4 linked regions of the Homo sapiens genome follow. The protein of the gene in region 2 interacts with the protein of the main gene of each other region in a pairwise test. Each region holds a gene or a part of one and is shown on either strand. Other genes may lie near its edges.

What was found.
Region 1: the proteins of SYT9 (region 2) and TMBIM6 interact in binary tests that used the Homo sapiens proteins (3 or more experiments, as listed by UniProt).
Region 3: the proteins of SYT9 (region 2) and TMEM50A interact in binary tests that used the Homo sapiens proteins (3 or more experiments, as listed by UniProt).
Region 4: the proteins of SYT9 (region 2) and UPK1B interact in binary tests that used the Homo sapiens proteins (3 or more experiments, as listed by UniProt).

The regions. Positions count from the first base shown.
Region 1 is NC_000012.12:49,750,896-49,758,947, reverse strand, and holds part of TMBIM6 (bax inhibitor 1), read right to left. Parts: intron 6,485-8,052; coding exon of another isoform or gene 6,455-6,484; coding exon 6,399-6,454; intron 5,976-6,398; coding exon 5,867-5,975; intron 3,314-5,866; coding exon 3,193-3,313; intron 722-3,192; coding exon 673-721; intron 566-672; coding exon 468-565; intron 266-467; coding exon 186-265; intron 1-185. UniProt on the Homo sapiens protein: Endoplasmic reticulum (ER)-resident protein that confers cellular protection as an anti-apoptotic protein by limiting multiple stress-inducing pathways surrounding the endoplasmic reticulum and mitochondria.
Region 2 is NC_000011.10:7,254,666-7,262,717, reverse strand, and holds part of SYT9 (synaptotagmin-9), read right to left. Parts: intron 1-8,052. UniProt on the Homo sapiens protein: May be involved in Ca(2+)-dependent exocytosis of secretory vesicles through Ca(2+) and phospholipid binding to the C2 domain or may serve as Ca(2+) sensors in the process of vesicular trafficking and exocytosis.
Region 3 is NC_000001.11:25,333,885-25,341,989, reverse strand, and holds the start of TMEM50A (transmembrane protein 50A), read right to left. Parts: upstream 3,657-8,105; 5' UTR 3,534-3,656; exon of another isoform or gene 3,173-3,533; intron 1,517-3,172; 5' UTR 1,504-1,516; coding exon 1,411-1,503; intron 1,020-1,410; exon of another isoform or gene 956-1,019; intron 1-955.
Region 4 is NC_000003.12:119,175,906-119,183,957, reverse strand, and holds part of UPK1B (uroplakin-1b), read right to left. Parts: intron 1-8,052. UniProt on the Homo sapiens protein: Component of the asymmetric unit membrane (AUM); a highly specialized biomembrane elaborated by terminally differentiated urothelial cells.

The sequences.
Region 1 (8,052 bases), on a different chromosome or scaffold from region 2:
AGCAATGCCCAACCTTGTGCAGCCTGTTTTCACTTGTGGCAGAAGGCTCCATCCTATGAAGGATAATGGGAAGGCTTAGAGAGCACTGCCCAAAGTAGTACAGAAAGAAGTGCAAAAAAAAAAAAAAAAGGAAAGAAAGAAGTGTGAGGCAAATGGCTGCTGGAAAGTTCCAGGCTAAGTCTTACCTGGAAAAGCCAAATGGATCCAAAGAAAACATTCCCCAGGGAAGACAAAAGCAACAAGCTCAGGGCTGACATCAAGATACCTATAAGACACAGCAAAAAGCTGTCTTGAGAGAAGCCAAGGCAAAGTAAAGCAATCCCATTAAAGCCATTCCTTAACTTCCCCCAGAATGAAGGTTAATCTCAACTCAATAGTCGCAAAGGAGTTAGGGGTAAGGAAGGAGTACTAGTGAGAATTCTGGCTAAAAAGGAGCCCCCATTCCCTGTTTCCCAGTTCACACTTACCTCCCAGAAAGAGGTAGCTACGGCGCCTGGCATAGAGTGCACTGAGGGTGAAGCAGGTAAAGATCATTGCCGTGCCCATGAAAGCAGTGGGAAGGATGCTGTTAGAAAAAAAGACCATTAGATTAAGGGCTACAGGTATACGGTCTACATTTAGAAGGTATATTCATAAAGATAAAAGCACATAAGACACTACCAAAAGAGTTACCTGGGGTTGACAGCAATACAAAACTCCAGGGCAGGGCCCAGGCCAACTCCTAGAAAACAGAAAACCCAGAACACAGTATTACGATCAATTCTTGAATAGGATCCTCATCCAAAAGCTGATCCCGAAATATAGGCATACTCATGCTCTTAACAAACGTGGACTAAAGAATTAAATCTCTCTCCCCTCCGCTGTAATTGTTTTCAATAAAATGTATACCTGACTGCGTTGTTTTTTTTTTTTTTATAGAAATAGCTGCAAAATTGTCCTCTTAGCTGAAAATCATGGATGACCTCAGGGAGGGTACAGAGATTACAAGAAAATAAAGTAGGCATGCCAAACATTTCAGAGCTAGAGTGATGTAAGATGGTAATATAGGCCAGATCAGGAATTAGAAAAAAAGGATAAAGAGCAAAACAGTGCCTCGTGGCCAGCAACCTTATAGTCATGTAGGACTGACTCCCCTTTGTAGCAAAGAAAGGTGAGACTGGTTCTGCAGGTGGACACCTGCCAACAGGAGGGCAACCTGTTCCAGCTCTAACATTTCTTTCGTTCTAATTACTTTCCTCTTTCCTTCTGATAATTCCACCCCTTAATGCCTTCAAAAACTAGCTTGCCCTGATGCAAAAATTTTAATCCCTAAATCTCTTCCTTTCTAAAATTTCTCCTACGTATATTAGACTGTCACTCAGAACAAGCTGTTCTAATTCAAATGTTTTGCAAACATTTTTATTACATAGCTTGAGTCTTGTTTCCTTTATGACAATTCTAGAAGAGCTGTGCCTTTCTTTTTTTGAGAATCAGCAAAGTGTCCTGCACAATAGATCTCAATGTATAGCTTTAATGCACTGTCTGTAAGACTCAGAACAGAAGCTCCTATGATAATTGCCAGTATGGGTGCAACTATGTCGGATTCTCAAGTCTAGTTTATTAAAAGTTCTATGCCTACTATTAATAGGTTATGCTACCTAAGCTCTTGAACCTCATTCATTCAAGTACACAATGGCTATTTTTGGACACAAAAGTAGAGTCACAGTGGCTACTCACAGAGTTTCCCCTAATGGATGGGGAAACAAAATGAACCTATATGAGATTAGAAAGCAGGCCAGGAAGGCCAGGCACAGTGGCTCACGTCTGTAATCCCAGCACTTTGGGAGGCTGAGGCAGGTAGATTACCTGAGGTCAGGAGTTCGAGACCAGTCTGACCAACATGGTGAAACCCCGTCTCTACTAAAATACAAAATTAGGGCCAGGGGCAGTGGCTCATGCCTGTAATCCCAGCACTTTGGGAGGCCGAGGTGGGCGGATCACGAGGTCAGGAGTTCGAGACCAGCCTGGCCAACATAGTGGCCCATCTCTACTAAAAATACAAAAGATTAGCTGGCGTGGTGGTTGATGCCTATAATCCCAGCTATTCGGGAGGCTGAGGCAGGAGAATCGCTTGAACCTGGGAGGTGGAGGCTGCAGTGAGCCAAGATCGTGCCACTGCACTCCAGCCTGGGCAACAAGAGTGAAACTCAGTCTCAAAAAAAAAAACAAAAAAACAAAAAAAAGCGCTGGGTGTGGTGGCTCATGCCTGTAATCCCAGCATTTTGGGAGGCTGAGGCGAGCAGATCACGAGGTCAGGAGATCAAGACCATCCTGGCCAACATGGTGAAACCCCGTCTCTACTAAAATACAAAAAATTAGCCGCTGTAGTCCCAGCTACTTGGGAGGCTGAGGAAGGGGAATCGCTTGAACCTGGGAGGCAGAGATTGCAATGAGCTGAGATCTCGCCACTGCACTCCAGCCTGGCCACAGGGTGAGACTCCATCTTAAAAAAAAAAAAAAAAAAAAAAGCCAGGAGGCAGGGTACTATGGCTCACGCCTGTCATCCTAACACTTTGGGAGGCTAAGGTGGGTGGATCACTAGGTCAAGAGATCAACACCATCCTGGCCAACATGGTAAAACCCCATCTCTACTAAAAATACAAAAATTAGCCGGGCATGGTGGCACATGCCTGTAATCCCAGCTATTTGGGAGGCTGAGGCAGGAGAATCGCTTGAACCCGGAAGGCAGAGTTTGCAGTGAGCCAAGATCACGCCACTGCACTCTCTAGCCTGGGTGACAGACGGAGACACTGTCTCAAAAAAAAAGGAAAAAAAGGGCCAGGCACGGTGGCTCATGCCTGTAATCCTAGCATTTTAGGAGGCCGAGACGGGCGGATCATGAGGTCAGGAGATCAAGACCATCCTGGCTAACACGATGAAACCCCGTCTCTACTAAAAATGCAAAATATTAGCCGGGTGTGGTGGCAGGTGCCTGTGGTCCCACCTACACGGGAGGCTAAAGCAGAAGAATGGTGTGAACCTGGGAGGCGGAGCTTGCAGTGAGCCAAGATCAAGCCACTGCACTCTGGCCTGGGCAACAGAGCGAGACTCTGTCTCAAAAAAAAAAAAAAGAAAAAAAAAGGGGGGGGAACTAATTAAGAGATACTGAAAATATAGCTCACCCCTCAAAATTAGACAAATCCCTTAACGTACCTGTAAGGAATGCAAATCCAGCAAGAAGTCCCAGTCTTTTCTGTTCAGTTTCATGGCTATGAGGTGTTGCCATCAGCCAAATCATCAATATCAGGGAGCCCAAGGCAGACAGCAGGCCAGCCTGTTAGAGTCAGAATCAATCAATCATTAAACACTTGAAAGTTTCAAATTTATTTTGCAAGAGACCTTTATTGGGTTCAAACACTCGTCTGAACTTCCTAACATTTGCTTATAACCTGGAGGCAGGAGAAAAAGTAGTGTTTTCTCAGGGATGGGGCTGAGGAGATAACCCAGAAGCCTTGAAGCACAGAGTTAGGACCATGGTGGATGCTGGAGGCTCTTCTGGCTTGCGTAGTCCTTCAACTACAGTACAACTACCCAAGTCAAACTATGAGTGAGTCTTGCCCAAAAAATAGAAAGGATGAATGAAACGTGACAAGTGCTTAAAGTACATTCCATCTGTAGAACAAATAGAAATGATCCCCCTTTGGTCACTTTAAAAAAAACATGGTGGCTCACGCCTGTAATCCCAGCACTTTGGGAGGCCGAGGTGGGCAAATCACCTGAGATCAGGAGTTCGAGACCAGCCTGACCAACATGGAGAAACCCCGTCTCTACTAAAAATACAAAATTAGCCAGGCATGGTGGCACACGCCTGTAATCCCAGCTACTCAGGAGGCTGAGGCAAGAGAATTGCTTGAACCCAGGGAGGCAGAGGTTGCAGTAAGCCAAGATCACGCCATTGCACTTCAGCCTGGGCAACAAGAGTGAAACTCCGTCTCAAAAAAACAAAAACCAACAAACAAAACCCCCAAACACCAAAACACCAAGACACATACATATACAGAAGACTGCAAAGTACTAAAATGTTAACAGTAGTTATTTCTGGATGATGGGATTATGGAAGTTTCTAAAATACTTCCTTCTCATTGCTAGTCTGTTTTCTGAATTTTCTAAAATGAACACATATTAGCTTTGTAGTAAGAAAAAAGTGTTTCTTTTTTTAAAAACGCCAAGTGGGAAAAACTATAGGCATTAGAAAAAAGAGAAATCATTAAGGATGGACGTAGACACTGAAGTTCCTTCCTTCCTTTAAAGGAAGAAGTTGATTCTCATTATTCAGTGTTTATGTTATAAAATCACAGTGGACAATGAATTAGTAAACCCTTGTTCCTGAGGGAAATAAAAGGTAGGTAGGTTCCTGCAAGCCTAAGGTCACAACATTTTCATCAAATGATCAATAGATACCTTGCTTTTATATGTGTTTCTGTTTAAGGACACCTCATTTGACATTATTTTTGATTCCTTAACATTGAACTCACAGTTACAACAGCAGTACAACTCATGCCGGAATGAAGCTTATCTAATATACACATTTTCTTCATAAGGCACATTACGGTCTTTCTGCACTCAGGAATACTAGACAGCACTTCAGCACTATGCTGTTTGCATTCTGAACAGCAAAATTAAGCCAAGCATGGTGGCATGTGCTTGTATTCCCAGCTACTTGGGAGGCTGAGGTGCGAGGATCAATTGAGCCCAGGAGTTTGAGACCAGTCAGGACGACACCACAAGACCTCCACTCAAAAAACCCAGCAAAATCACCAATTAAAAGCACAAAAATACAAAGGAAGTGGCACTAAATGACCATGAAAAGAACATTTGTTTACAATACGAGAACTGAAACAAGAAGGCAGAGCACTGTCTTGTTCAACCTCAGCTGAAAACACTGCAACAGCAGGGTGACTCAACTTTTTCACCACTCTGTGACTGTCTGCAAAAAGTGCCATGAGTAACAGAGCGAGACTCTGTCTCAAAAAAAAAAAAAAAAGTGCCATGAGTATTGATTTTGGGGTTACAAATTTTAATGAGTAGGTGAATTCACAAATATAGAGTCTGTGAATAACAAGGATTGACTGTATTTTACTAAATTATTTAAGGGCTAACCTTGCCTAAAACTCAAGCGATCAAAGCCCTATCCTTTGAGTGTCTAAAGTAATTTTTCACACAATCCCTGCCAGGAGATGCCTGAACATAAGGATAGTTCTCAACAGTGGCAAATGCCAACAGAGGCCCACCTCTACATTTATGCTAAAAGGAATACTCTACAAAGGCACAAGACTATGTTAGGGAGTCTTCAAACTTTCTGGTTATTCCTCAAACTGTACCTTCTACTCCTGCTGACCAAACCCAGATTCTCTCTCAATACAGGAAAACAAATTGTTGAAGGTTTTTACCCAACCATGCAGACAACAGTTATCGGAAAATAAAACAGGTCAATTCCTTAAAAAGATCTCAATCCTGCCTCTCCTGATAGTTAATCACACAATCAGAGTTTTGTAAAGGAAGAATGGAGGAAAAGATAAAAAAGCTTCTGTGCCAAAGAATCCCAGCATGCATGCCATGCGCCTACTCAGTGGGTGGGGGTCTTGTACGTCAGCAGCACACCATTCAGTGCCAAGGTTAAGGCATTCTGTTTTTCGGTATCTAGAGGGGGCACAGTTGCCAGAAAATTAAAATGGCTTTACATGTCCTGATTTAATGTCTGAGTTTAAATCCTAAACTACTGATAAAGATTAAAGAGAGGAACAGGGTCCCTTGGACCACCTTGCTGAGCTGGTTTTTTCCTAATGTAATTTGTACCACAGCAACCAGGAGAGAAAATCGTTCTTACCTGAATGAAATGAGTGACCATATGGACATAGGCCCCTGCAGCCGCCACAAACATACAAAGGGCAAAACTTGCATAGACCTTCTTCAGGTGCTGCTGCGTTGACGGGGTTCTAAGAAAAGAATGTGAATAAGAGCAATCAGTCCCAGATCAATCTCATATTTAAGCTAAGAAGAATCATTTCTCTCTTTCCCTTCCTGGGAATATGTAAAAGTTCTGTTACAAATAGTTTGAAATACTTTTAGGAAAGCATATTACAATAAAAAATAATATTTTGAAAATAGGTTAACAGAACCTTAAATGCTGAGGAAGACCAAATGCCCAAAATTATGAATAATCAGTACCCAAACTAGAATAAATGCCTTTCCAATAACCACACAGCAACGTGTAGAATTTGGACATTTTCATCAGGTCCTCTGGATTCTGGCCAAGTTAATTTGTTAGCTTATACACACAAAAGTTATAAATGCAGAAAAGGGACAAAGAGATATGAAAAGAAATGCAGTACAAAACCAGTCAAGGTCAAAACACTTACATATGAGAAAATTTTAAAAGCGCATCAAAGTTGATCTTTCGATCAAATATGTTCATGGTTCCAGAGTCCGTGCAGCAGTCTCCACTCTGCAGAATAAAGAAAGGTTAGAGTCATTAAGTCATACAGAATCACACGAACAGCTTATAAAAAAAAAAAAAAGCAACATGTAAGTTCAGAAAGATGAAAACTTGCCTAAAATTCTACAGCCCTAACACAACCATTTTTATTTTTATGTGTCCTACAATATATTTGCAATCATAGTCAACCATCTTAAAGACGACAGAGGAATTGAATGCATCTTCTTCTCCCTCAAACTATTTTGTTACTATCATCTGATTTCTATTCTTTCAGGTGATTTGCCACTTTAAAAGGCAGTAAGTTTATAAAAGAAATTCTCAATTAACAATCTAGTTAAAGGAACCTAGACATTGGCACATAAAGCAATTTTATGTCATTGTTTCAAGATGCTAAAGAATTCCCTTGGCTGGGCATAGTGGCTCACTGAGGCCTATAATCCCAGCACTTCTGAGAGGCTGAGGTGGGCGGATCACCTGAGGTCAGGAGTTCGAGACCAGCCTGGCCAACATGGTGAAACCCTGTCTCTACTAAAAATACAAAAATTAGCTGGGTGTGTTGGCACACACCTGTAATCCCAGCTACTCAGGAGCCTAAGACAGAAGAATTGCTTGAACCTGGGAGGCAGAGGCTGCAGTGAGCCAAGACACGCCACTGCACTCCAGCCTGGGCAACAGGGCAAGAGTCCATCTCAAAAAAAAAAAAAAAAAAAAAAATTATCTCACTAGCAGCACCTCAAAGATAAAAAACAAAACTTTGACTAGTCTTAACAAAACAAACAAAAACTATAAAGCTGGGTCTGGCATTAAGACTTGCATTTTAAATATATGCGTATCAAATTTTCTTAACCTAACACATTTAAGAACTGAACTGAAAAGGACTCACAATTTTAAAAAAAGAGAGGTTCCTACCTCCATAAAAAAGGAATTTATGCAGAAAGGAGGATTTTTTGGGGGGTATTTTTTTGACAGTTTCAGAACCTTTCCTACAGAAAGGTTAGAACAGTACAAAGAATTCCTGTACAACCTTCACCCAGATTTCCTAAATGCTAATATTTCACATTTGCTTCATCTTCTTTCTATATAGCAATATATAGACAGATGTAAAAATATTTTTTCCCTAACCATACAGACACAGTGCTCCTAAACACTTCAGTGTGTATATCCTGAAAGCAATGATCAAAATCAGGATATTAATACTAATGCAATACTATTTCTAATCTGCAGACCTTATTCAGATTTTTGCCAACTGTCCCAATGTCAAAAAGGGCATTTTTAAACTGAACTATATCCAGGTTAGATCATATCAACACCATAAAGTCAAGTTCTTAAGTTTTGCTCCCTCCCCTATTTCACATGCAATCCTAAGTAAACGTGTTCAATCTACAGTACTAAAGATCCAGTCAAGAACTTTCATCTCTTCTAAATATAAATCCTCCAAACTCCTATCAGGGCCATAATGCCCATCCATTTTAAATCTACCAGAAAAGGAGGGGCAGGGAGGAAGGGATTCAAACATAAAGTTGTGTGAAACGCCACCTACTGAATGAAGCACTCTAATCAGCACCCAGCCCAACACT
Region 2 (8,052 bases):
CACTACCTGCAATGGTGAGTGCCCAGTCTTCATTCTGCTTGACCTAACAGTAGCACTTGACACAGCTGCTTATTCCTTCTTATTTGATCACCTTCTTCTTCATCCTGGGTTCCAGGTCAACACTCTTGCTTGGATTTTCTCTTTCATTTCTAGTCTCTCTTCATTAATCTTCCTTTGTAGTTCCTCAAGTTCTCTCTAGCCTCTTACCGTTGGACAGTTCCAGAACTTAGTGCGGGTCCCCTTCACTCTCCCATTCACTGTGCCTTCCTAGATAATTTCAGCCAGACCCATATCACATACATGCTGATGACTCCCATGTTTATACCTTCAGCCTAGCCATCTTTCCCAAACTCCAGGCTCATATATCCAGACGGCTAGTCTGTATCCCCACTGGGCTCACTAATAAGCATTTCCAATATCCCACATCAAGAACTGAGCTGCTGGTCATTCCCCTCAAAATTACTTCTCCTACAACTCTATTCTCCTAGCTGCTCAGGCCACAGTCTTAGTCTTGACTCCTCTCTGTCTTTCACACTCAATATCCATCTATTAGTAAATGTTGTCATCTCCACCTTCCAGCTACCCAGAATCTGACCACCTCCTACTATCTCCACTGCTATCACTCTGGTCCAAGCCACCACCATCTTTCACCTACATGATTACAACAGCTTTATAACTCCTCTCCCTAACTTCAACCTTCCCCTCCTATAGTCTGTTTTCTATGTGCTGGTCAGAGTGATCCTTTCTCTTCCTAAGTCAGATGTTATCTCTCTTCTGTTAAAACTTGCTAATGGCTTCCTATCTTACTGCAAGTAAAAGTCACTTTTTTAAAATGGCTTATAGAGGCCTACAATCAGTCTGCCATCACCTCTCTGACCTCATCTACTACTACTCTCTTTTTGCCAACCTCACTACAGTCATACTAACCCTTGGCTAATATCTGAACACGTCAAGCATGCTCCTGCCTTGAGACCTTTGTACCCGCCGCTCTCCTGCCTGGAACGCTCTTCCCCCTGCTACGTGTGTATCTTGCTCCCACATTTCCTTCTGACCTTTACTCATTTGTCAACTTCTCAGTGGTGCCAGTTTAGTCTTTATGTCTTGATCTCTTTCCATGCCTTGTTTTTTCCCTTAGCACTTACTACTATCTAACATACAATATAATTTATGTACCTATTATCATTTTCCCAAAATGTAAGTTTCATGAGGGCAAACTTTTAATTTTCTGTTTCATTCCCTACTGTATGTACAATACTGTGTCTAGGTATCTACATTTGTACATACCTAGGATAGAGCCTGGTACTTAGTAGATGCTCAATAAATATATGGTGAGCAAATAACTGGCATCCCCTACTATAACCTCTCCAATCAATGTTTATCCTGTCTCCAGAATACCTAATTAAGGGATAAAACTCACCTGAATTTTCAGCGTAAACTCTTTTAATGGTTCTGCAGTGCTACAGCTGATACAAACTAAGATGTCTTCAATAGGCAGGCATGTCCCAAAAATGTGATAAGCAAAGTGTACATGTATGTGGTGGGGACGAGGAGGCAGATATTAGAAATGGACAGCCTGTGACCCACTTAAGGGCATTCAATTCAATTATTTTTTAAAATTATGCCTGTTAATTGGCAGACCCTGTACACACAATAAAGAACTATCTCTACAGCGTGGCTTGGTGGGCACTAGGCAGGCCTGCCATGCGTATTCCCTCTTGGGCCCTATAACTTCAGAGAAAACAGACTGTGCACATCCACAGACTGGATAGTTACAATGCAGCTGAACACACTGCTTTTTCATTACTAAATAACCAGGCAAGGAAGCAAGATGTCACTGTTGGCATAGTCAGGAATTATATCTGGAATCCAGATGTTTGAACCAGATGACTAAACTTGCTAAAGGCAGTATTTACAACTATTCAAGGTAATTACAGTTGGGTTTCAGGGTGATATGTTGGGGATCTAAAATGGGTAAACTTCCATTCATTGATTCCAATCTGTTAGGACCTTACCTTGGACAGAAAGAACATATTTGCCAGTAACCTGAGTATATTTTCCATAAGGAACCAGGAAGACTTCAGAAGCTGCATTCATGGAACTGAAATCTCCTGGTGTGCTTTGCTTTGGGCTTATGATATAAATTGTACTTCTTTCAAGATTTCTGTGTCAGAGTGCTCCAGTTAGTCCTCAGTGGGTTTTTGGCAATGGCATACAGGGGCTTTCGTGATCTGATTTGACCATTGTTTACTAGAGCAGATCCATCTCTCAACATTGCCAACACACACTCAACTTACTGTTACCCAGGATCCATCCTCTTCTGTGTTAGGACCTTTGTAAATTCCTAGAATGCTCTTCCCACCAACTAGTTCCAGACAAACTCTTCTGCCCAAGAATAGACTTCTGTAGGAAGCCTCTGCAGATCCACTCAAGTCAGCTAATTACTTCTCTCCTCTTTTTTCTGTACTGTATCCAGTAGATATCTCCCTTCTTGATTTTATTAATTGCCATTATTGTTTTATGTCAATTCCATAGAGGCAGTAAGCATGTCTAATGTATCTTTGAATGACAGATGCCCAACCTTGTACATAGCACTTAAGGGGCCCTCAATAAATGTTTTTGGAATTTAACTTAATTATAACTAGAAAAGATTGATCAATTCAACGTGGTTAAGTAACAGCTGCACAAGGGTAGGGTGGGGTAGGTTGGAGTGGGAAAGAAAACATAAAGAAAAAGAGATTCAAATTATAACAACTTTTTCATATTTCATATAAATAAATGCAGCATTTTGCATTGGAAAAGAGTGTTACAACGAATCCCTATTTATTGAACCACCCCTGAAATTTCAAAAGACACTTTAATATAATGGGTTGATTATAGTCAGACAACCTGAGCTCATTCACTATACAATATTCCTTCTGTGAGCTAATTTGACAGAATATTTACATTCTAATTAATGGAAATTGGTAGAAAAAAACATTAAGATTCTCAAAAAATAAACTGGTACATGATAGAGAATGTGGTAGAGAACACAAAAAATTCACTTAAGAGTAAATATAAGAAGGTTCAAAACAAAAAATATTCAGTCTTACCAACAAAAAAAACACAAATTGAAACAACTAAGCAGCTGTTTAAACCATGTTAAATTAGCAACCTTTTGTTCACATTATACACCTAATGCTAGCGGATTTACTGTTGACATGTAGCAGGACTAACTAACATAGATCTACCAGAAAGCAATTAGGGCTCACTGTTTATAATTTATCATGAAAAAATTTTCCCAAAAGGAAACAGGGGACTATAAATACAAGACATTATTCACACTAAAAAAAAATTACAAGCTAGAATAGCCTCAAAAGAATGGTTAAATAAAAAAGGTATACCCATTCTTGGAATATACATAGTCATCACAACAATAATAATTACGTACTAATAAGTGTTAACAATGGGAAAATTATAATAATAGAAATAATGGCTAGTATTTATTGAGCATTTACTACGTGTAATTACTATGAGCATATACCAGGTACTATGGTATTTCGCATGCATTGCGAGATAGGTACTAGTATAGGGTTGTCAGCATCACAAATAAAAATATAGGATGCCCAGTTCTACTTCAATTTCAGATAAACAACAGATGATTGTTTTGTATAATTATGTGCCATGCAATATTCCCTGTCGTTTATCTGAAATTCAAATTGAACTGGCAGCCTGTATTTTATCTGGGTAACTAGTAACCCAGATACTAGTAATACATTTTACTGATGAGAAAATGAGGACACAGAGGTTAAATAACTTGTCCAGGAACACACAGCTAATAAGAGGTAATAAAATGCTAAGTTTACAAAAAAGTAGAAAGTAAATTTAGCCTACAAATAATTACAAATGGTAAAACATATACATGTTTGTGGACCACGGCTGAAAGGAAACATGGGCAGGTGATACTACCAACAACATCAATTTATTGATCATTTATTTGAGCATTTACTCTGGGCACAATGTTACAGCAATCTTCCACTCCCATTTTATAGATGAATAAAATGAAGAGTTAAATATTTTACTCAAGGTCACTAAGGTAGTAAGTGCAGTCAGATTCTAACTCCAAAGTCCTTGCTTATTCCACTTTGTCATCTTGATGTCCTAGAAGATTTTTTTTTCTTTCAAGTGCAGTTCTATCAATGTTGATTTAAAGTTTTTGTGTGATAAAATACATGTGCAAGGCCATATGAAGATTTCAAAGAGATCTGCAAAGCCTGGTCCTCAGGATTTGATGTGGTCTAAAGCCCTTCCTAGAGCCCACCAAATAAACATTTGAAAGAAAAGGAAGTCGTGATGCACATTTATTGCTCCAAGATTGCAGTGAAAACTGAAAACTTCTCCACAAATGGTGATTTTATTCAAACTTCATTCAGAAAATAGAAATACATACTCCATACTTGTCCTTTTAAAAGTGAGATTGCTCCCCCATTTATGCCTCTCACTAAGCTCCTCCACTTTCTCTATACACTTTGGAGTGTGAACTTGTTAGTTCCCTCAAGTCAACCTGTTAGGAAGAGATTATGAATGTTTTTAAGCCAACCATATGGGAAATTGCACTTGCAGCACAAACATAAAAGTGCCTCAATGCTACTTCAGTGAAAGCAACATCTATGCTCTATACATAATAGAAAATTTGAGGATGATTTCCTTTAGGTGTCAGTTTAATTTTTCCTTGAGAGTTTATCCCACATCAAAAAGTTTGTGCTTTTGATTGTTTATTTTGAAAGAGGCAGCTGGCCATAGGGCTGCCTGTGATGCCTTTACTACAATTTGCTTTTGTTTTCCCCTCTTGATAATTACCTCATGACTAAACCACTCACTGGTCCATGTAGAGGAGTCCCGCAGAGATGAAAACACACTTGTTTAAATAAAATATTTATGAAGGAGCCCTGAAATGTCACCGAAGTAAATGCAAATTAGATCTTCACATATTGTGCATCCAATATGCCACTCATTCCTTAGAAGACTCTTTTTCCTGATTGCAATTAACATTAATTTAAAAAAATTAATCCCATTGTGCATAATCACACCAAGGTCTATTCATAAACATCCAGTGTTTCAAGACTGATTCTCTTTTGACTACCTTAGAAAAATTTGAATCAAGGCTAATATTTAATCTTGATGATTATTTTGGAGATTTTTTTCATAGAAACTATATTTAATTATTATTTTACATGTACATTTTCTAATAAGTGACTTCATTATAATTTAACATAGGGTGACATTTGTGAAGGTTCTATATTCTGACCTTTTAATGACACACTATTTAGACAAGATTTTTCTTGATTTGTTTGTTTTTTCCCCTCTCAGATTGGTGGACATAATAGAGCCTTATGATATGTTCAATGAGCCCTTAAAAGAAAAATGTAGGATAACGTTGGGAAAAGAAAGTTAAGAATCAGTTGATATGGGCACTAGCTGTACAGGGTAACAGTCAAGGTTCCTAGTTTTTGATACTATCTTTCCTAATTTTGCAAGAAACAAATGTGAGCTGAGCTGAGAAGGGTTAGGCGGATGCATTCTTTGCCCAATGGTCTCAAAGGTTGTTCTCTACTTGGCTGCACATTAGAATCAATAGATGAACTTTAAAAATACTGATACCAGGCCCATTTCCCAGAGACTGTGATTTAAAACTGGTCTAGGGTGCAGCCCAGTCATTGGTAGTTTTTGTTGTTGCTGTTGTTTGTTTTTTCTTTGTTTGTTTGTTCCAGCTCCCTAAGTATTCCTAATGTGCAGCCAAAGTTGAAAACCATGACCTAGAAAAAGCTTTTCTTGAATAGAGTAATATTTACATGGAGAGAAGAATCACTAATCATGAGTCTTAAGGCTCTGCTTCATACTCTGACCTGCTGAACCTTTTCTAAACATTGGGTACAGACACAGAGAACATGCAGAAAAATCTCCAGAATATGGAGTTGGAACATGAATGGAAAACCAGTATCCTGGATAACAGAATTCATAATCAAAAATACTAAGCTGAATCTTTACAACTACATAGAATGTGACCTACACTTAGGGATTAAATCCATCATACAAGTACAGAAGAGAGAAAGTAGGTCTAAGGGTGGCTCTTATGAAAAACACCTAGAAAATTTTCATTGACAATAACTCCTCAGTTTTCAGTACATGTGATGTGACTACCTAAGAAGCTACTTTCACTTAGACCCAATTCTTCTTTTAAATGGACTCCATGGCCCTGGGCTAGTTTACTTCTCTGGACTTCAGTTTACTCATATATATCAATCACTTTTAGCCATGGTTCTTGAACTTTAATGTGCCTACAACTCTCACCTGAGGATCCTGTTAATATACAGATTCATATTCAGTGGGTCTGGGACATAACTGAGATCTCCAATTCTAACAAGCTCCCAGCAGCTGCTGCTGCTGCTGGAACACAGATAAGTGCTTAAAAGACTTGTGAGGACTAGTGAAATGACCTACATAAAGTGCTTGGCACAGACATGGTTGGCACCCTACAGAAGAAAAGACTTAAAAAGAAAATGATAAAAACATGTTTAAGACCTAGTCATTACATGATCCAATCCTCCTTTCTGTTCCTTGGAAAGAGTGGATCTAGATAAGTTAGGCTAGTTTACCTCCTAATAGCCAAAGGTGTATGATGGAGAAGAGAGATAAGACTAATGCTTTTTGACCAAAAAAAGTATAATCAAGATCCATGGGTAGAAATTTAAGAGACCTTTTAATTCCCTACAAGGAAAACCTTCTAACAATACATACTGTTCTATAACCAATTAATCTTCTTGACAGCGAAGTCTCCAGTTAAAAAATACGAGCATAGAGCAATTGACATTAAAGAGGATAGTCATACCTCAGGTCACTGTTCAACTGTAAAACAGCTTGGCTATCTAAAGAGGCATCACACACTTAATGTGTTACAAAAAGTTAAAATAAAATAAAAAATAAACCTCATGATTTCCCTCCTCACCCCTACCTTCTTCCTGAAGACTTCTACTTGTACATGGAATTTTTTAGGTCAAAAAGCCTTTGAAGCATCCTTAATTGCCCTTCTCTCACCTTTCACATCTCTTCCTTCAATAAATACTTGCGGCTGTACCTGCAAATTGCATTCATAATCCAATTACTTCTCATCACCTCCATTACCACTATCCCTGTTGAAGTCACTATCACCTCTGTCTGGATTTCTGAAATAGCTTCCTAAGTGGTTTCTCTGACTTCACCTTTGCTCTTCAACATAGCAGTCAAAGTGTTGTCACTTCTCTGCTCAGCACCTTCTAATGGCTTCCTATCTCATTCAGAGTAAAAACCAAAGTCTTTATAATGGTTTACAAGACTCTGCATGATCCACCCTCTCTAACTCTTGACCATACACGTCTTATCACTCTCCATCTGTTTCACACCTCTCCAGCCACCTCTGAAGTCACCATTTCTAGAATCATATCAATAATGCTACCACTTCAGGGCCTTTGCGCTTGCTGTTCCCTCTGCCTTAAAGGCTAGTCTCTGAGGCCTGCAAGTTTATGTCCCACATCATTAACATATAAAACACCATAAAGGCAACCAACAGAGCATTCTAATTGCTTTCTATGGACAAAAGTGCTCACACTCAGCACTTTCCTTTCCACAAGTTGGTACAGATGACAGACTGGGTGAGGCACTTCAGTTCCAACTGTGACTTAGGCTTATTTTTTTAAACCACAATTGCATCAAGTCCTCTGTGAACACCAAGTCAGGGAAATCTGGGTGCGGTACTCCCCCAACAGGGCACTATAACTACCTGGACAAAAAAGAACCTTTCTGATGGCTCAGGCCCGCTGGTCTGTGCCCTAGTCTTTCCACACCTCTGAAAAAATGAGTAAATTTCCTAGATGCAGGGTCACTTTGCTGTCCACAGGAAATTATATCTTTTTTCTCCTTTTATAACCAAAGTCCTTAGTTCAGCTTGAGAAAACCTAGCTATCACAGGGTGGCCGTGAATGGACAATAACAGAGAAAGCTGGGACATGGCATTCAGGTGGATTCCTTTCCAGAAAAAGA
Region 3 (8,105 bases), on a different chromosome or scaffold from region 2:
CCTGTAATCTCAGGACCTTGGGAGGCCAAGGCCAGTGAATCACTTGAGCCCAGGAGTAGGAGACCAGCCTGGGCAACATGGAGAGACCTCATCTCTACAAAAAAAACAAACAAAAAAAAAAACAAAAATTAGCCCGGTGTGGTGGCCTTCATCCGTGGTCCAGGCTACTCCGGAGGCTGAGGTGGGAGGATCACCTGAGCCCGGGAGGTCGAGGTTGCAATGAGCAGTGATTTCACCACTGTACTCCAGCCTGGGAGACAGAGTGAGACCCTGTCTCGAAAATAAATAAATCTTAAAGCTTAAGAAAAAATGGCTTGGTGCGGTGGCTCATGCCTGTAATCCCAACACTTTGGGAGGCCGAGGCAGACAGATCATCTGAGGTCGGGAGTTCAAGACCAGCTTGACCAACATGGAGAAACCCCGTCTCTACTAAAACAAGAGCAAGGCCAGGCGCGGTGGCTCACACCTGTAATTCCAGCACTTTGCAAGGCCGAGGCAGGCGGATCACGAGGTCAGGAGATCGAGACCACGGCGAAACCCCGTCTCTACTAAAATACAAAAAAATTAGCCGGGCGCAGTGGCGGGCGCCTGTAGTCCCAGCTACTCGGGAGGCTGAAGCAGGAGAATGGCGTGAACCCCGGGAAGCGGAGCTTGCAGTGAGCTGAGATTGCGCCACTGCACGCCAGCCTGGGCGACAGACTGAGACTCCGTCTCAAAAAAAACCAAAAAAAACAAAAACAACAACAACAAAAAAACAAGAGCAAAACTCTATCTCAAAAAATAAAAATAAAAAATTACTCTTTAGAGCCTACGACACCATATGATCATAAAAAACTAATAGCAGATCCCTTGAGGGATCTGAAGTGTAAATAAGAATTTTATTCTGTAAATTACTTCCACACAATGTATTTTAATGAGTTTCCTTTTTGTTTTTGCTTTTTAAAAAAAAATTTTAAGGGGCCATGCTAATCTTCTCTGTATTATTCCAATCTTAGTGTATGTGTTGCCAAAGCGAGCACTTTTTTTTCCCTGAGACTGAGAAGAAAGTTAACTGGATTATGGAGAAATGCAATCACATCTATTGACTGGTTTTGACCTGACTGCGTCTTAAACACTTCCTTGTACCTTAATATACTCATTAAAAGGAGATATAATCCATATAATGAACAAATGTTTTATTATGCCATTTTTACCATGCAGTTAAAACAACCCAACCACTTGTTAATCAAATTTTAAACCATAAACTCTTAAAGTGGAACTAATAACTCTCCACAAACAACAAAATATCAACATGGTCAAAGTGGTCAAAGATAAAATAAATAGTACATATTTTAAAACATCCTGCAGAATTCAAAACCCATAAACACAAACGCACCAAAAAATAAGGCCCAAATAATCAATGACACTTACTAGTACACCAGCAGCAATGGAAGCAATAGTATTGCGCTTTTCCCCCCAGTCAATGCATTCTGAGCATCTCAAGCCCTCTAGAAATCCAGACATTTTTTTCAGGTCACTTAAAAACAAACAAACAAACAATTAAATAAGTACTTCCATTTACTTGCTTCAAGCCCGAAAAATAATTAATAGCTCAGGAATAATTAGATAAAAGTGAAATTACAAATGCTTTATTTTGGTTCCACATACTTCTTCAGAATATTTGATTTAGTTTTTGATGAATTTCCACATTATAACTTTGGAAAGTAATATCTGGATTCATTTAGTATCTTTTTTAATGTAAAAAATGGTTTGGGGGCCGGGCGTGGTGGTTCATGCCCGTAATCCTACCAATTTGGGAGGCTGAGGTGGGTGGGTCACCTGAGGTCAGGAGTTTGAGACCAGCCTGGCCAACATGGCAAACCCCATCTCTACTAAAAATACAAAAATTAGCCGGGGGTGGTGGCGCATGTCTGTAATCGCAGCTACTTGGGAGGCTGAGGCAGGAGAATCGCTTGAACCTGGGAGTCGAAAGTTGCAGTGAGCCGAGATCGTGCCACTGCACTCCAGCCTGGGCGACAGAGCAAGACTCTGTCTCAAAAATAATAATAAATAAATAGAAATAAATGGTTTGGATATATTTAAGCAGTATTAACAAAGGTGGGTCTCCAAATATTGAAAAAATTTTAACTACTGGTTGACCTCCTCCTGAAAATCTGTCACATCCTATTATTTCTAAGTAGGTATTAAATTAGTTTAGGTGGTACTTTTAATACCAAGTATATGATTACTAATCCACAGGAGCTCTTTTGTATCATTTTGATTCCAAACTTATTAAATGAATTTGATATTTACAGTCCAGGAGCACTAACATTAGTAGAGAGACAAGTGATAAACTTTGGCTCTGAGTGGAATTACAGATTCAAATGAAAAATATTTCTCTAATTTACATATTTTATCACAGAACGTGTGTTTCTTCACACCTAAATCAAGAAATTAAACACTGCACTGCAGTTCTTACCTCTACCCACATCATTTCCTTTCACTTCATTCATTATTTTTCTTTCTGCAAGCCTGCCTTTTGGTGTCATTTCTATATAAAGAACATCCACTTTAATATCCCTATCTCTGATCCTAACGGGTGTTTCCAGCCAAAAGCAAGCACAGAATCGTGGTTAATAGTAATTCAGATTACAAAAATCCAACTGCTATTTAAATATAGCCGACCCAAGCTGTCTTTACAAATTATATAAAACATTCCTGTAAGCCGAGCAGTAGAGACCTGAGATACAGCCATGTTATCTCTATTTCAGAGTATGAAAAAGCCTGAAATACATATAACTTGCGAATAACAACACCCAAACTCCTACAGCGAACTTGACTTCCTTAAGATACTTTGTAGCCAGCAATTATGGTTGTCCAAAAATATGACACCCTACAATAGAGCAACGTCTCCCATTTTTAACTTCTCTTTTAAAAATTAAATATTAAAATATATGATTACAGCCAATGCTAAGATGCCTTTGGGACAAGTTCAATTTAGGAAATTCACTCATTTGATTCTTCCCCGGGAAGAACTGCAATTCAATAAGTGTTATTTTCGGTTCATCCCAATGGCCCCACCCCGAATCCATTTTTCTTTGCACGACGACTGGTACGCTCAAGCCAGACCCCGCCCTCCAAACTCTGGGACTTTTAGGTCTCGAGGGACGCCGCTGGAAGATGGGGGAGCCACCTTTAGCCGGGGCACCCCTCGCTGAGGGAGCTGGCCGGGTCACGCTCCTTTCTCGGGGCTTCGGCTTGTCCAGCTGTGAAGTGGGGGATCGGGGGATTTTCCAGGGATCCTGGGGTGTCCCGGGGGAGGGCGCGGTCCCCTCTCCGTCTTGGCGGGGTCTGGACGCCGTCGCCTTCTCCTGGCGCCGCCGGACCCAGGAGAGGAGAGGTCCGCGGCGGCTCAGCCCGGGTCTGCGGCTTCCGGGAGGGTGGCGGCAACGAGCCTGTGCTGTGGGCACCAGCCCGTCAGACGGCCCCGGCTCCGAGGCCTCTCCAGCCTGCGGCCGCTACTCTCTTACCCCCACTCCCCGCCCGACACTTACGTCCAGCCCCGTCGTGCAGTGGTTCCGGAGCCCGGTGTCGCGCCGCGCCGGCCCGCCTCACTCCCCCGATTTTAGCCAAGAAAACAAAACGGCCACAGCCTCCAGACACCCGGATGCAGCAGTACCATCCACCCGGCTCAGTCGCGCATGCGGACACGGGGCGGAGGGCGGGGCGCCGGGTCCGGAGGGAGCCACGCCCACCACAACAACGCGTCTGCGCATGCCCGGGCGCTGGGTTCAGGGGCTTTCCGCCGCTCTGGGTTCACAGCTGGACGTCGGGAGTGCTAGTTTGGAGTACGCCATTTGAGAGTAGGCGTGAGAAGTTGCTCTGTGTGCTGAGCGTTCTAAAGGAAGGCGTCCGTTGGCCTTCGTACCCGTCTTGAGTGAGGTGACGAGTGTTTTCTAGTACTGGGGTCGGCCGCGCAGCCCTCTCAGGGGTGGGTGGCAGGAAGAGTGCCGGGTCCCGCGTGGTGCAAAAGGTGGGTTCAGGTTTGCGGCCACACAGCGCTACTCAGGACTTTTTAGTCTTGTTTATTTTCTCCGTGCCTGTTCCCGCCCCCCGCAGCTCCACCTCTGGGAGAGGGGCGGGTTCAGCTCCAGGAGGCGGGGACTTCCCGGCTTGGCGTGGCTGGGGTGTCCCGTGGACCCCAGTCTCGGCGCGGTGACCCACTTATGGGACTTGGCCTTTCTTTGTTGTTTGTTTAAGGCAGGGTTTCTCAGCCTGGGCACTACTGAGGTTTTGGGCCGGCTAATTCTGTCTGGGTTGGGGAGGGTGCTGTCCCGTGCTTCGCAGGTTGTGTAGCTGCATCCCCCGCCTCTACCCAGTGGATGCAAGTAGCAGCCCCAGTGAACCAAAAATGCCCCCAGACTTTGCCAAATATCCCCTCCCGGGGAAGATCGCCTCGCTTGAGAACCACTGTTGGAGGAGAGCCTGGGTTTTCGGGAGGTAACCGTTTACAAAGGGGAGAACGGTAAGAAGCCGGAAGCAACGATGACTTAGCTACGTGAAAGACTTGCGGCCGGGCTCGCCCCTCTTCTAGAAGCCGTCAGTTTGGGTCTCGCGTCTGGAATCACCGTCAAGGAGTCAGATCCAGCCCCGGAGAGGGAGCAGGGTCGAGGTCTCCTTGCAGAAGGCGCCACCGCAGGAAGCACAGGCGCAACGTGCGGTCTCCCTAGCGGAGGCGCTCGCGATCCTGCAGCCGCCGGTCCGGGAGGTGCTCGGTAGCCCTCCTTGGTGCCTGTCCGGTAGCTGGTCACTCTCGGGGGAAGGTCGTGTGCAGAAGGGCACATGCGATCACACAGAGACGGCGTTGCTGCGGCTTTGACCCGATGGTGCACCCGAAAGAACACAGAGGGTGAAGGGAGAGATCCAGGAAGTGGTCGCGGAGCAGAACCCCCCTTCACTTCAGTTAAAAAGGTGGGTCAATTGTCGTTAAGAGATACGCACAGGTTCATCTGATTGACATGTACGGCGGCAGTATATGAGTGGGATGGGAACCAAGGTGACTGTTGTTTCCTTTGATGGATGAAACTTTCATCCCTTTGGGTTTTTTTGTTTGTTTTTGGCGGTGCATTAGCCGATTAGTAGATAAAACTGCATGACAATCTATAGCCTGTTTTTAAATGGACACGTTCTTACCACTCAGGAGGTTTATCGTGATTGTTTAATGTCTCAGGGTGGAGGAATCTAGTGCAGGCAGTTCTTAATGAAACCTTTTAAATTCCCGTTAGTGACTTAACATTAGTTTACCAGCTCTGAGCAGCTTTAAACAAACATCCTCTTTTAATAGCTAATGAGTGCGGGAGAAAAGATACTAACTCCTTTCTCTTTGCGTTTTTTGCCCCTACCCTTTTTTCTCTTTTCTGGCCTTAACATGATTGTCAAATATTTATAAATATGAGTGAGCATCTTTATATTACTCTTACTAATAAGATACATGCTTAATTTGTCATTCTTTACCTTTTTGGGACTTAATGAATGTTTGTCTTTTGTAGATAAAATGGAGCTGCTAGAAATAGCAAAAGCCAGCCACCCATATTAACCCCTCCATTTTCCCTATAATTAATGGCTTTCATTATTGTGGTATATTTGTTACAATTACTGGACTAATATGATACATTATTATTAACTGACATCCACATTTTATTCAGATTTCTTTAGTTTTTTGCCTAATGTCTTTTTCTGTTCCAGGATCCCCTCCAGAATACCACATTACAGTTAATTGTTATGTCTCCTTAGTCTCCCCTTGGCTGTGTCAGTTTCACATACTTTCTTTGTTTTTGATGATATAGATGTGAAGAGTACTAGCCAGGAATATTATAGGTATTGGGTTTTTTAAATGTATGTGTCATTTCATGATTAAAAATCAGTTGCGGCCAGGTGTGGTGGCTCAGCACTTTGGGAGGCTAAGGTGGGAGGATTGCTTGAGGCCAGGAGTTCAAGACCAGCCTGGCCAATGTGGCAAAATCCCATCTCTGCTAAAAATACAAAAAATATAGCTGGGCACGGTGGCACACACCTGTAATCCCAACTACTCGGGAGGCTGAAGCACAAGGATTGTTTGAACCTGGGAGGTGGAGGTTGTAGTGAGCCAAGATTGTGCCACTGCATTCTAGTCTAGGCAACAGGTGAGACTCTGTCTCAAAAAAAAAAAAACAAGTGTGGATTACAGTATCTGTTGGGCCTACTATCGTAAAACACATACACATGCATGTGCACACACAAACCTCCAGGCTATCACTTCAGTGCCAGCCAGCAGCATTTCTTACTCTAACCACTGCAACTGTGTCCCTGCTTCATCTTGGGGCTTCATTCTCATATATTTTCTTCACACAGCAGCCACAGAGAAGCTTTTACAATGTAAACCAGAGTCTATTACTTCTGTTCTCCAACTACTTCAGTGGCTAAATTGGTACCAGTAGAGTGGGGTGCTGCCGTAGATACTCAAAAATGGGTATGTGACTTTGGAACTGGGTAACAGGCAGGGTTTGGAACAGTTTGGAGGGCTCAGAAGAAGACAGGCAAATGTGGGAAAGTTTGGAACTTCCTAGAGACTTGTTGAATGGCTTTGCCCAAAATGCTGATAGCACTGTGGACAATAAAGTCCATAGGCTGAGGTGGTCTCAGACGGAAATGAGGAACTTGTTGGGAACTGGAGCAAAGGGGACTCTTGTTATGTTTTAGCAAAGATACTGGCGGCATTTTGCCCCTGCACGAGATATTTGTAGAACTTTGAACTTCAGAGAGATGATTTAGAGTATCTGGCAGGAGAAATTTCTAAGCAGCAAAGCATTCAAGAGGTGACTTGGGTGCTGTTAAAGACATTCAGTTTTATAAGGGAAGCAGAGCATAAAAGTTCGGAAAATTTGCAGCCTGACAATGTGATAGAAAAGAAAAATTCCCATTTTCTGAGGAGAAATTCAAGCTGGCTGCAGAAATTTGCATGAGTAACAGGAGCCAAATGCTAATTCCCAAGACAATGGGGAAAATGTCTCCAGGGCATGTCAGAGGTCTTTATGGCAACCCCTCCCATCACAGGTCCAGAGATATCAGGAAAAAATGGTTTTGTTGGCCAGGCCCGGGGTCCTCATGCTGTGTGCAGCCTAGGGACTTGGTGCCCTGCATCCCAGCCACTCCCAACCATGACTGACAGGAGGCAAGGTAGAGCTTGGGCTGTAGCTTCGGGGAGTGCAAGCCCCAAGCCTTGACAGCTTCCATGTGGTGTTGAGACTGCGAGTGCACAGAAGTCAAGAACTGGGGTTTGGAAACCTTCGCCTAGATTAAAGAGGATGTGCGGAAATGCCTGGATGCCCAGGCAGAAGTTTGCTGCAGGGGCAGGGCCCTCATGGAGATCCTCTGCCAGGGCAGTGCAGAAGGGAAATGTGGGGTCAGAGACCCCACACACAGTCCCTACTGGGGCACCACCTAGTGGAGCTGTGAGAAGAGGTCCTCCAGACCCCAGAATGGTAGATCCACCGACAGCTTGCACCGTGTACCTGGAAAAGTTGCAGACACTCAATGCCAGCCCATGAAAGCAGCTGAGAGGGAGGCTGTACCCTGCAAAGGTACAGGGGCAGAGCTGCCCAAGACCATGGGAACCCACCCCTTCCATCTGCGTGACCTGGATGTGAGATGTGGAGTCAAGAGGAGATCATTTTGGAGCTTTAAGATTTGACTGCCCCACTGGATTTTGGACTCTCATGGGCCTGTAGCCTCTTTGTTTTGACCAATTTATCCCATTTGGAATGGCTGTATTTACCCAATGCCTGTACCCCCATTGTATCTAGGAAGTAATTAACTTGCTTTGGATTTTATAGGCTCATAGATGGAAAGGACTTGCCTTGTCTCAGATGAGACATTAGACTGTGGACTTTTGAGTTAATGCTGAAATCATTTAAGACTTTGAGGGACTGTTGGGATGGTGTGATTGGTTTTGAAATGTGAGGACATGAAATTTGGGAGGGGCCATGGGTGGAATGATAGGGTTTGGTTGTGTCCCCACCCAAATCTCATCCTGAATTCCCATGCGTTGTGGGAGGGACCCAGTGGGAGGTAACTGAATCATGGGGACA
Region 4 (8,052 bases), on a different chromosome or scaffold from region 2:
TGTTCTCCTTTTTCACTATGCATTCTCTTCTTCTCCCTTAGGCCTTTGGTATCAATGGCACATGATAATTTAGCTACTCCTGTCTTCCAAGATAAGGAAATAGTGATGAAAACTGCCATTTATTGGGCACTTACAATGCTCTGGGCACTATGTTAGGCATTTGATATTCATCTTCTCAACAGACCTGAGAGATGGGTTTTTCAGGTCTGCATTTCCTATTGCTGCTGAAACAAATTACCACGAACTTCGTGGCTTAAAATAACAGAAATGTATCTTACAGTTCTGGAGGGCAGAGGTCTAAAATGAGTCTCACCAGGCTAAAATCAGGGCTATGTTGCTTCTGAAGGATCTAGGGGGAGAAGCTGTTGTCTTGCCATTGTTTGTATAAAGAAAAGGGGCCGGGCATGGTGGTTCACGCCTGTAATCCCAGCACTTTGGGAGGCTGAGGTGGGCAGATCACCTGAGGTGAGGAGTTCGAGACCAGCCTGGCCAACATGGCAAAACCCCGTCTCTACTAAAAATACAAAAATTAGCCGAGCATGGTGGCGGGTGCCTGTAATCCCAGCTACTTGGGAGGCTGAGTCAGGAGAATCGCTTGAACCTGGGAGGTGGAGGTTGTGGTGAGCCATGATTGGGCCACTGCACTGGGCAACAGAGCAAAACTCCATCTCCAAAAAAAAAAAAAACAAAAAAAAAGGGAAGCTTGGAGAGATTAATTTGCCCAAGGCCACATTGCTAGAAAGTGCAGAAGCTGAGACTGAAACACAGGTCTGCCTGGCGCCAGATCATTTGCTAAACACTCTACAGTTTATAAAGTCTTGCTACATAGCAAATGCTTTCAGTAGAAATAGAAACACCTGGAGTGGAGAGAACAGACACATTTCCCTGCTCAGGAGACTCTACCTTTGCAAAGGTCAGAAACACTAGGCTTTTCTTCACTTACATCTCCAGCTTCTTGTCTCTTTAGCCCCTGGACACGATGCTCATATTTGCATATTTCCCCCAAACTCAGTGCTGTACCCACATGCTTTTCCAGAAAACCTGTCTGGATGTATCAAAAATCTACAGCTCATCCACCTACCCCCAAGACCAGAATTCTTAGAAGTAAAATGTGCAATGTGCAAGTCAATGAGAGGTTAGCATTTCATAGCTTCTACTTGGCCACTTGTATTTTAGACTAGGTTGGTGTCCAGAGGACCTAAAACATTTGCTGCATCCCCCAAATGGCCACAGATGTCAAGAGGGAGCCAAGTGTAGGCTTCCAGTGGCTCACAGCATAGTCTAATATCTGTAGTATAATGGTGACCACACTGGACTTGGCATCAGAATGCCAGAGTTCAAGTCCCAGCTTTGTGCTGTCATTATCATTACTGTGTAAAGTTGGACAATGTTTTCCTTAGTATCTACTTCCTCGTTTATAAAATTAGTAGACAATAACTTGTTAGATGGAGTTGCTGTGATCACTAAATGAGATAAAAGATACAAAAGTAATAGGTAAGCACTAAGATTGTTTACACATATAAGAAACTATTAATTATAACCAGAGGATATTTAGGAAGGGCAGGGTATTGGGTTATGATTTTGTTTTATATATCAGTGACCCCAGGGGGATAGAAGGGAGGTTTTAACAGTGACTGGTCTCACAGCCAAGGGCTCTTAGATTGAGGAGAAGCAGCCTTCCTTCCACCTTCCCTCTGTTCACTGCACAGGGGCTGCTCTGCTCGAGGGACCAGGAGGGCTTACACAAGATACCCATTTGTACTTCTTTTTATTTTCCATAGATGAATTCATGAGAGAAAAGGAAAAACACTTCCTAGTTGTGCTTGGGGTGCGGCCAGAGTCAGGTACCAAGCTGCACATCCACATGGGAGGGGCCCGCCTTGCATGCCATTAGCATTCCTGAACAGTTAACACTCGCCATTGGGCCTCATCCCTCTGCCTTTGGCCAGCTCTAAGGCCTCTGCCCCACACTGCAAGTTGATGCAGAGATGGCCCCTGAGGTTGTCCTTGTCCTGGGGCCACTTTCTCCCTGACACAGACATTACTCAGAGAGTATTCTGCTCTGCTGCCCTTTTGCATTCTTTCCTCCCATTGCCAACCTGTGAAGGGCATCCTGCACTTTATTGCAAGAGTCTCCAAAGTAGGAGGAGGCATTTGGGACCCTGTTTTATTTGTCTTTCTAGGTCCAAAGTGGCATAGTACCTGACATGTAGTAGGCGCACTCAATTGTTTTGCTAAATAAAAAGATAAAGTAAATAAATAATGTTTATTTGAATAAATGAGTGTGCAGATTAATAATTTGCCTAGAACTTTGTTGAAGAGCAAGTTAGAGAATATGGTGAAGTGGAACGAATGTGGGCTTTGGATAGACCTGGGTTTGAATCTTAGCTCTACCACTTACTAGTTTTGTGACCCCAAGAAGTTACTTAATCTTCTCGAGCTTTATCTTCAAATGAGTATAGTAATACTTAACTTCAAGGGTTACTATGAAAATTAAATGAGAATATATGTGAAGTTTTAATACAATATTAGTTACCCAATACTAATTTTGCTTATTTTTGTCTTATAAAGGAGACAGACTAGAGCTAATAGCCCAGTGGTTGGTGAAGGTACCTAAAACCAGTGGTTTATTATTATTATTTTTTTGATACAGAGCAACATTTTCAAAGGAAATAGGGAAATATGATTTCAGTAGGGAACTCTAATATATGAAATCAGATCAGAATGGTACTTCTCTGGCTGAAACGAGAGTAGGAATCCTGGGCTCACAGAGCATCTTCTCACCAGCTCTAAACCTCCTAAACACATAGCTAGCCCCAGAACGATTGGAAACTACTATTCTAGAGCTAAAGGAAAAGAAAGAAATAGGCAAATTACTGAGCTCAGAAGACAGTTACCCAAGAAGTAAGAGGACACTCAAAAGTGATGTTGAAAAACTGGTCACAACGTGTAAGCTGACCTTACAAAGTCTGTGTCAAAGACTTCCCCCTGCCCCTCATTCAATGGAAGATGTCTAGAAAAGTCCTGGAAAACTGAGACAAGTGAGTTTACTTTTATAATACATTAGCTGGATGGATCTTTAGGAAGAGCTGCTTTCCTGGCACACTTAGAGGAAAGGTGACATAATTTCTACAAAAGGAAAAGATCAGGCCTGGCTGATGTTTAGGGTTCTTTGAAGATTAATAAATGCCTGTGCATAGGGGTAGAGTAATGCACTTTTTTTTAGGTTAAAAAAGAAAAGCTTTGACACAGTTCCACACTAATGGATATTTAAAAAAAAAAAAAGACATTATGAATTTGTTGACCTTTCCATAGAGGATAGGCACGGAGAAAGAACAAAAGGGAAGGACAAATGGTGACTTCTCTATACACAGAATATAAACTGTGGTGTTCTCTAGGGCTTGGTAGTAGTTTTGCCTTTGTTAATAGCTTCTTGAGTTTTGTCTCTGCCTGCCTGATAAAGAAGTATTGTAATGAACACCTTGCGCTGGTTAATTTTGTATGTCAACTTGGCTGGGATATGGTGTTTGGTCAGTATCAGTCTAGATATTGCTGGGATATGGTGGGATTGGCTTGGATATGGTGTTTGGTCAGATATCAGTCTAGATATTGCTGTGAAGATATTCTTTAGATGTGATTAACGTTTAAATCAGTAGACTTTGAGTAAAGCAGTAAAGCAGATTACCCTCCATAACGTGGCTGGCCTCCTCCAATCAGCCGAAAACCTTAAGAGCAAAAACTGATGTTTCCTGAAGAAGCAGCATTTCTGCCCTAAGAGGACTGTAACAGAGAAACTCTTAAGTTTTCAGTATGCAGATTTTAGGTTTAAGTCTGCAACATCAGGCCAAGCGCGGTGGCTCACGCCTGTAATCCCAGCACTTTGGGATGCTGAGGTGGGCAGATCACCTGAGGTTGGTAGATCACCTGAGGTTGGTAGTTCGAGACCAGCCTGACCAACACGGAGAAACCTCGTCTCTACTAAAAATACAAAATTAGCTGGGGGTGGTGGCGCATGCCTGTAATCCCAGCTACTCAGGAGGCTGAGGCGGGAGAATCGCTTGAACGGGAGAGGCGGAGTTTGCCATGAGCCGAGATTGCGCCATTGCACTCGTCTCAAAAAAAAAAAAAAAAAAAAAAAAAAAAAAAAAAAAAGCCGGGCGTGGTGGCTCACGCCTGTAATCCCCGCACTCTGGGAGGCCGAGGCGGGTGGATCACGAGGTCAGGAGATGGAGACCATCCTGGCTAACACGGTGAAACCCCGACTCTACCAAAAATACAAAGTTAGCCGGGCGTGGTGGCAGGCGCCTGTAGTCCCAGCCACTTGGGAGGCTGAGGCAGGAGAATGGCGTGAACCCGGGAGGCCGAGCTTGCAGTGAGCCAAGATCAGGCCACTGAACTCCAGCCTGGGCGACAGAGCGAGACTCCGTCTCAAAAAAAAAAAAAAAAAAAAGACTGCAACATCAACTCTTCCCCAAATTTTCAGGTTGCCCACCTGCTGTATAGATTTCGGACTTGTCAGCCCCCACAATCACATCACATAGGTTAATTCCTTAGAATTAATATATATATATATATATATATATATATATATATATATATATATATCTCCCTCTCTCTCTCTCCCTCTCTCTCTCTCAACAGGGTCTTTGTGTGTCACCCAGGGAGTGCAGTGGCACAATCATATCTCACTGCAGCCTTGACTTCCTAGGCTCAAGTGATCCTCCTGCTTCAGCCTCCCAAGTAGCTAGGACCACAGGTGCATGCACAATGTCTGGCTAATTTTTAAATTTTTTGTAGAGAAGGGGTTTCATCATGTTGCCCAGGCTGGTCTTGAACTCCTGTCCTCAAGACTTGGCCTTCCAAAGTGTGGAGATTATAGGCGTGAGCCACCATACGTTGCCTCTCTCTCTCTTTATGTATCTCCTTTTGGTTCTATCTCTGAAAGAACCTTGAGTAACACACCATCCCAATTGGGATTGATGTATATTTTTGATAGAAGCACATATGATCATTTTCTGATGTCTCCTGATACCATTTTACCAATTCCCACTGCCAGCCCCTAACTTCTGGATCAGATGAATTAAACATTTTCTGTTTCCATTCCATACAGTGCTTCCATGGTGAACTTTCTCAAGCAGAGGTTCTCAAATGATCCTCCAAAACACAGATGTTCCATTTACTGGGACAACATGTTTTGATGCCAATATTGAATGATTCCAGTCATTTCCTAATTTGAGGAAAAATTACTATAAAAATTTGTGATTTTAAACATTTTCCTCTTACACATTTTTCTTAAATTGTGGATGCTACTACCACCTGTCTATGCTAAAATCTAGTTTTTGGTATGAATTTAGGCCAAAATGATCTACTTACTTATTTTAAATTTAGTAGACCAAAATTTTCTGGTATTCTACAAAGATAAACATGGCTTCCAAGTGCCAGCCACTTAGCCAATCTTGAGATCCACTGTCCTAAAACACAGCTCTGAATTTATATCTCCCCCCTGCTTAGAACCCTTCAAAGGTTCCCTGTAGCCTAAATTCAAAGGAGAGCCCTCGGTCATTCCCTCTGCACTTACAAGCCCAGCCACCAGCTCCTACTTACTTCCTATTGCCAGGTTCATCACTTGTCCCCCCACTCTCTGTTGCTGACCAGTTTCTTTGAATCCAGATTTGCTCCTGTTCCCTTCTGAAAGACCAGTCTATAGTATTTGGCCAGACCCAACTATTATATTTTCCATTCAGCCAGTGGAGGAGTGGTTGGACCACCTAAGAGATAAAGTACAAACTCCTCAGTGTGTATTCAAGGCAGCACCCATCCAGGTTCTAAATGGCCTGCCTGCCATTTTTCACTGCGTGCCCCACCCCCCCAACCCTTTGGTGTCCTGGTCATGCCACCATGCTGTGCTTAGGGTGTCCCTGTCTTTGGAATCCCTTCTCCCATTTCTGCCTATCGAACTCTTTACCACCTTCCGAAGCCCAGCTGAAAAACCTCTTCTCTCCTCAACTTCTCTTACCCAGAATTATCCTTCCTTCCCTATATCCCTCTCTCTGCCTATAGCAAATAGCTCTCCAGGGAAGCTGAAACCATTGTGGATATGTGTTTATGGCTTTTCTTCCATACTAGCCTCTGCCACAGCAATATAGTCTGGTACGTTGTTACGTCTTTTCTTCACCCAAGTTTGTTTAATAAGATATTCTGAAGCCACAAAAATTGGATTGCTGTGCATCAAAAAAGCCAATTTAACAAATAATTGCATTAAAAAGCAAAATTATAAACTTTTAAATTAATTGACGGGTGTCACACTTAGAAGTCAATGACTACACTTTTGGTAGTTTTTGTTTGTCTTAGAAGATATGTAATTTGAGAGACATTAAAGTGTCATTCATCCTAGGACAGTTATTGGCCAGGTGCCTGTTCACGGCATGATACATCAGTTCTGGCTGCAAACTTGGAGGCTTTGTACAGGTGAGAAATTTAAGGCTCACAGAGAGAAAGTGACTTGTTCACGATCATGATGTGTTATTAAAAGAGTTAAGATTCAAGTCCAGGTTTCCTAACTCTTAACCCAGCCTTCTATGGGGTTTGTCACTAATGATTATTCTTTTTAAGGTAGGGAGATCCACTTCCCTTTACGTCTTTTTAAATTAAGAGAAACTCTTGACCTCCCACCTGTGAGCCTACCCATGAGACTCACTACAAGATAAGCCAGAAAGGGAGCCACATAAACAAAGCTGGCAGGGAGAAAGCCTTCTATCCTTTTCCTTCATTCAAAGGCTTCCTCACCGTTTACCCTAACTTCTGAATGCCACAATTTGAGACTCACTCCTTCATTCCTGATTAAAATGCAAGCTCATATAAAAGAGGCACATTGAGTTTCATGAGCCATCCATGTCAATGCCTCATTTATCAGCTCCCTTCTCTTATTTAATTTTCAAAGGGCGAGGGAAGACACCATGAGAAGGAAAGAGACCCAAGGAGAGGGTAGAACCTAAAAAGACAAACCTCGTAACTTATGATTTGGGGGTTTGGGTCTGTCTCTCTGGCTATACTGACTTCTAATGATATGATGTGTCCTCTTTCCTGCCTTCTCTTTTAGCCCACAGTATGTAGAAACTGTTTTAGATATGTGGTCTTCTGAACCCTCCCCACGTTATTCTAAAACAATGCCTCCCTGACTATATTGGATTACTTATCTGGCAGGGGTGGGAAGGAAACCAATGGGATGAGTTACATTTAACAAGTGGAAAGCGGTGGAAGGCAGAGGGCAGAGCAGCAACTGCCCGCGTTAGAGATGGAACGCCCCAGACTGAAAGTACGCAACTCACCTCGAAATATTTTCCATGTAAAGGAATAGCCCCTGTGCACCCCGCCCTGTGGGAAAACTGCCCTGTGGCCTGGTATGATGATGATTTACTCAAATTGCTCAATACCCTGGGAGTTCCTTTGCTTTAAAGAGTGCAGATTTTTTTAAAGCTAGAATTATATTTCTTGTTTTTTCTTTATTGTGCTTTCACTCAGTTTGTTTTCCTATAAAAATTAATCATACCCGTAGTGTTGATGTTTCCAGACACATTGAAAGGTCTAAAAACAATTGCTCACTAAACAAACCAATTTGCAAAGCAGAAGAAAAAGAAGTGAGACTCGCCCAGTAAGCATGAGATCATTTTTTCAAGTTCATTACCTCTTTTCCTCACCCAAGTTTGTTGTACCAGAGAACACACAAACCACACCTCAAACTTTAGTTCATGCTAGAGAAATTTGAATTAACAAAGGAGAAAAAAAGAAAAGGAAAAATAGGAGAGGAAGAAACAAAGAAACACAATATGCGATTGCCTTAGCCCTCACCCTGAAACTCAGCACAAGAACAGACACTTCCTTGGCTCAGAGTAAAGATGGGTGTGGAGATTGTAGGTCACAACAATTGCTGGTCTGCTTCAACTTAAGGTAGGATAAGTCCCTGGAAATAACAAAAAGAGGAGGTTTCTCCCAGGGCTGTCACCCATGGCTCACAGTGCCCATAAGTTTTTCTTGCTTTAAAGCTCTAAACCT